Linked DNA regions of Homo sapiens: region 2 is linked to region 1. Evidence: fine-mapped expression QTL. Tissue or cell type: blood mononuclear cells. Region 1 holds a variant in brackets; the other region holds the start of a gene. All regions are shown on one strand. Distances are from middle to middle.

The links. PIP is the estimated chance that this variant, and not a neighbour inherited with it, causes the effect.
Region 2: RCE1 starts here. The variant in region 1 is fine-mapped to the expression of RCE1 in blood mononuclear cells (TOPMed, PIP 0.93).

Annotation. Positions count from the first base shown.
Region 1 is chr11:66,809,024-66,811,864 of GRCh38, reverse strand. The region is part of intron 7 of TOP6BL (TOP6B like initiator of meiotic double strand breaks); the gene reads right to left. Among named protein-coding and RNA genes, the nearest start is that of RCE1, 33 kb to the left of the region's middle. The variant C/T (reference allele first, on the strand shown) is at 1,439.
Region 2 is chr11:66,842,297-66,844,967 of GRCh38, reverse strand. It overlaps RCE1 (Ras converting CAAX endopeptidase 1), which reads right to left and starts at 1,527. Exons shown (of 8, transcript NM_005133.3): 1 at 1,328-1,527; 2 at 1,107-1,209; 3 at 929-1,012; 4 at 604-682; 5 at 1-99. The coding sequence starts at 1,512. It overlaps TOP6BL (TOP6B like initiator of meiotic double strand breaks), which reads right to left. Exons shown (of 15, transcript NM_001302084.2): 14 at 1,899-2,119; 15 at 1,452-1,799. The coding sequence ends at 1,734. RefSeq lists an enhancer at 950-1,656 and silencers at 1,297-1,736, 1,847-1,986.

The sequences.
Region 1 (2,841 bases):
CTCAAGCGAGCCTCTCTCTGCATCAGCCTCCAAGGTAGTTGGGACTACAGGTGAGAGCCACCATGCCTGCCAGGAATTTTTTATAACTCCATTTTATCTCCTTTTTAAGTTATTAGTTATAACTGTTGCATTAAACCAGGGATTGCCAGGCTTTATTAGTATACAACTTTAACTTATCACAGTCTACCTTCAAATGATATTATAACAATTCATATAAAGTTTAAGAATCCAACAATATACTTCCACTTCTCTCCTCTTGGCCTTTGTGCTATTGTCACAGGTTTTATTTCCATAGATGTTATAAACCTTATACATTATATTTTTGCAGATCCATGATCAATGAACCCTAAGCATAAGAAATATGAAGAGTATAGGCTGGGCACAGTAGCTCATGCCTGTAGTCCCAGCACTTTGGGAGGCCAAGGCAGGCGGATCACTTGAGGTCAGGAGTTCGAGACCAGCCTGGCCAACATGGCGAAACCCTGTCTCTATTAAAAATACGAAAATTAGCTGGCCATGGTGGTGGGCACATGTAGTCCCAGCTACTCGGGAGGCTGAAATGGCAGAGATAGAAATCATTTCAGGGGCCTGATTGATTGAACTCAGGAGGCAGAGGTTGCAGTAAGCTGAGATCACACCACTGCACTCCAGCCTGGGCAACAGAGTGAGACTCCATCTCAAAAAAAAGAAATATGAAGAACATAGAAAATGATAGCAAGATATGTCACACACACACATGCAAAATTAGCCAGGTATGGTGGTGTACACCTGTAGTCCTAGCCACTCAGGAGGCTGAAGTGGGAAGGTCACACGAGCTTAGGAGTTCAAGGCTGCAGTGAGCTAAGATCAAGCCACTGCACTCCAGCCTGGGAAACAGCAAGACCCTGTCTCTACATAAATGAATAAAGCCTCAGTGAACTGCAGGATAACTTTAGGTGGCCTAATTCAGGAATGTGTAATTGGAGCCTGAAGGGAGAGACTTCAAGACTTGTTTTTTAAAGATTTTTTTTTTTCTGGTAAGGTACTTGTGAAAGGAAAATTAAAACTCAAGACCCCAAATCACTATGCCAAAAGGAAATAATTTAGCTGAAAGCTGAGTCATGCAAGAAGCTGTCTCTCCTTTTGTTCCTAAGCAGATAGCTACAGATAAAGGGTTAAATACCTCTACAGGTAGCTACTGTAATGTTCACCTTCTATTATATAAAGGGCCACTTTACTGAGCACAAGACAAATACATAATTGACTGTTCCCCTACTTGCTCCTTTTCTCTTGTAACATATGGATTCAATAATGTGATCATCCCCTCCATCTTTCCTCTCCAGCCTGCGTTTCCCCTTTAAATACTGAAGACCTCAAAACCATCTTTAGAGAAAGGCACAGACCTGTCTCCCAGGAACATCCTTAACCTTGGCAAAATAAACTTCTAAACTGATTGAAA[C/T]CTGTCTTGGATGCTTTTTGGTTTATATACTCAAGAAGGATATTTTGTGTTTTTAAAAGGACAAAAGTATTTTGTATCTACCCGCATAGCCACCACTTCCAGTGCTCTTCCTTTTTTGGGTAGATTCAGAATTCCGTCTGGCAACATTTTTCTTCTACCTAAAAGATTTCTGTTAACATTTCTTATAATACAGGTCTTCTGGTGATAAATTCTTTCACCTTTTCTATGTCTGAAAAATTCTTCATTTTGCCTTTTTTCTCTCAGTACTTTATAAAGATGTTACCCCACTTTCTTCTAGCTAACACTGTTTCCAGTGAGAAATCTGCCATAATTATTTTGTTCCTCTATACATAATGTGTCTTATCTCCAGCTGCTTTTAAGATTTTTTTATTACTGGCTTCAAATACTTTGATTATGATGTGACTTGGTATAATTTTCTTCATATTTCTTACACTTAGGGTTCATTGATCATGAATCTGCAGGTTTATAGTTTTCATTAAATTTGGAAACTCGGGGGTGAGACCCTGTCTCTACAAAAAATAAAAATAAAAAAATTAGCCAGGCATGATGGTGCATGCTTGTAGTCCCAGCTACTCAGGAGAGGCTGAGGTAGGAGGACTGCTTAACCCCAGAAGTTCGAGGTTGCAGTGAGCTATGATCGCACAACTGCACTTTAGCCTGGGCAACAGAGTGAGATCCCTTTAAAAAAAATAGTTATTTCTCTGAATTTACACTCACATATCTTCTATCTGATGCTAAAAACTTTGGTTCCTAACATTGTTAACATAATTATTTATCATAAGTATGCATACAATAATTCCAATATAAAATACCAATATTATTACTAACAATCATGCCACTGAATAAATTTTAAGAGGTCTTTGGACTTCCATTTCATCCTTAGAGTATATCCTGCTAAGAACGTATAGTCAAAACACCATGTTCTAAAGTCTGTTGAATTAATTCTTCTTGTTACGTGGATTATAATTTTAACATAATATACAGGTAAGTTTATTACCTTTTATGTTGAGGAATATTTGGATTGGATATGAAATTCTAGGTTGGTAATGATTTTATTTCAAGACATTAACACTATTAGTCTAACACCTTCTGTTGGTATGGGGAAGTCAACTGTTAATTTATCTTTTAAAGATGATTTGTCCTCCTGACTGATTTTAAGATTCTTCTCTGTTTTTCATCTCTTTAGGTGTAGAAATCTTTTTTATTTATACTGCTTGATTATTCTGTTCTTAAATCTGTCTCAGCCATCCTGGCTAACACGGTGAAACCCCGTCTCTACTAAAAATACAAAAAATTAGCCTGGCGTGGTGGCGGGTGCCTGTAGTCCCAGCTACTTGGGAGGCTGAGGCAGGAGAATGGCATGAACCCGGGAGGCGGAGCTT
Region 2 (2,671 bases), 33 kb before region 1:
GCATACAGGCCCGGAACACCAGCTCCTCTGTCAGCGGGGCGATCACTTGGTTCCGCAGCCAACGCATGTCTGTGAGGCAGCGGGCCCAGGAGCGGGGGGCTGCAGAGGGAATTCAGGACAAGCTGTGAGTGACGGGCTGTCAGACAGTGAGACCCCAGAGGCTCCAAGGGCTCCTCTCCCACAACTTTACCCTGGCCAAACTCAGGTTAGGCATCAATACTGCTGAGGACGGGGGTGTGGACCCAACATAAACCCAATGTCTTGAGATGACCTGAATGGAAGGCATTAGCTGAGGCAAGGGCATCCTGGAAGTAAACTCTGGAGACACCAAAATTTAAGCAAGACTAGCTCTGGTTGGGGAAGCAGGGGACAGTGCTCTCTGATCCACACCAAATACTGCTGGGGGTTCCCAGGGAACTCCTTGGACGTTGGCAATCAACCCTTAGAGGCCACCTAGCTCTATGTTTCCATTTTACTGATGAGAAAACACACCCAGAGAGATGACATTTCACGTGTCCAGATCACACCCTGAGCCCGCTGACTCCCTGCCCCAATGTCCTGGACTGCCTGTGCCTACTTTTCCCTTCAGCCTTTAAGACTCACCCAGGACAACCTTCAGCCCATCTGCCAGGTCACAAGGGCAATCCATAGAGAGCTGCATCAGTGGGCCCAGGAAAAGAATCTGAGGGCAAGAAAACACTTTCACCATAACCCACCGCTTTTGCCCAGACCTTTGCCCATGCTCCCTGAGACTCCAAGCTTGAAATCCTCTCCAGCCACGATTTCCAGACCATGCATACCGGAGGACCCTGGGGCCATCTCAAAAGTCCTGTCTCCCATCAACCAAAAACCAAAAACAAGAGTCCACGGCACTGCCCATCAGGCTGATAACAAAGACCAGAAGAAAAAATACAGCAGGAGCACTCACCATGGTCAGCAACAGGGGCAGCAGCGCCGCTGGGAAAATGCCCTCCAGCCTGAAGCCCATCAGGGTGAGCAGGGATGTGCCTGGCTGAGCCACAGGAAAGGGGGCATCAGTTTTGCTTCCTCCCCTAAAGACCCCTGAGCTCTCACCGCCGTTGCCCTTTGCCCCGCCTCCTTCGCACCTGGATGCCTGTGAGTTCCCTCCAGAGCAGCACGCACAGGGGTGAGAGACTGGACACCACCAGGACGCTGGTGAAGCGTCGCTTGATGACCGCGGGATGGTCCCTACGGAGGGGACAGTAAGTTCAGGGGGCCCGCGGCTGCCCATGAGCACGGACCCGCCCCCGGCTCGCCCAAGCTCCGCCCGCAGGGCGCGGATTCCGGTCGCGCGCAGCCCCCGCACCTGGGCAGTTCGCTCTTCCAGACGTAGAGGCTGCCCACGTAGGAGCAGGCGAGGCTGAGGCAGGAGAACACTGACACCCAGCAGCACAGCCCGGGGCCCAGGCCGCCCAGCGCCGCCGACTCGGGCGGCCGCTCCGGCCGCGACACCGACAGCAGTCGCAGCCCATCCCCGCCCAGCGCCGCCATTGCGCCCTGACCCGCGGCGCGCACCAGTGACGCAGTCCCAGGGAGGTGTGGGTGACGTCAGGCCGCGGCGCGGCTCCACGCCCCGCCCCGCCCCGCCCGGGCCCGACGCGGAAGCAGACGCGGAAGAGGACTTGGTGAGCGCGCGGCAGCTTTATTAAACCACGGGATAACGGCTGCCCGCAGCCTCCGGATCGGTGGGCGCTTGCGGAAGGGGACCCGGCTCAGGGCCCAGGGCTGGGACTCAGCCACTCTGACAGGTTGGAGACCTCCTGCAGCCACAGCACGTCCTGCGGGAACAAGGGGGCCCGGGGTGAGGACCTCTCAGCAGCGGCCCGTGGCCTGCACCTCCTGCTGAGCCCTTCCCTGCGCGGCCCTCGCCCAGTTACCTCCAGGCGGCTTCCGAGGCTCGCCCTGCCCGGCGCCAGGGCCCTGCCGTGAGCCTCGCGGTGCTCCCTTCCTCTAGGAGTGAGGGGGGCCGCGGTGGCTTCCGGGCGGCGCGGGGCGGCCTCTGACGGGCTCGGGGCCCTGGCAGAGCGCAGAGCTCGCATCTCCTCTATGCGGGGGCTGCCCCTCTTGAGCCTCTTGTTTTCTGCTTGCCCGCTGGTATCTAGGAGAAAAACAAGCCTCTTCATCTTACTTTCATGGCCCTGTGCTAGGAGCACCCTTGGCCAAGGGGAAGCCTGGGAGAACGGGCGCCGAGGGGCTCTTCCCACCGCATCCCTGTCAGCAGGTCCCATCCACACCAAAACCCTGCAGCTGTGGGCGCTTCTGGAGCAGCCCGAGGCTGCAGAGACGTTTCAGGGTCTCCCTATTCTCTCACCCAGGCGGGAGATTGTCCCGAGCCCTCACTTGGGGGACTCAGGCCGCTCAGTAACTTTCTGTATAGATTCTTCCTGGAGTCTGCACTGACAAGCTCCCCTCCCTGCCAGCCTCTGTCCCCCCTCACCTTTCTGGCCTCAGTTCTGTCTCCCTTTGTTGCTCACGTTGCATTGAGCAGTGCCCATAGGCAGCTTTCCTACTCTTAACTGATTCATTTGTCAAATTAAAGCGAGTTTAGATGGATAGATTCTTCCCCAGCAGGTCTTGGGGATGCAGATCAATGAGCTTTTCCCTGAGAGAAGCTCACAGATGCTAGGAGGGGATGCAGACCTGTGTACAA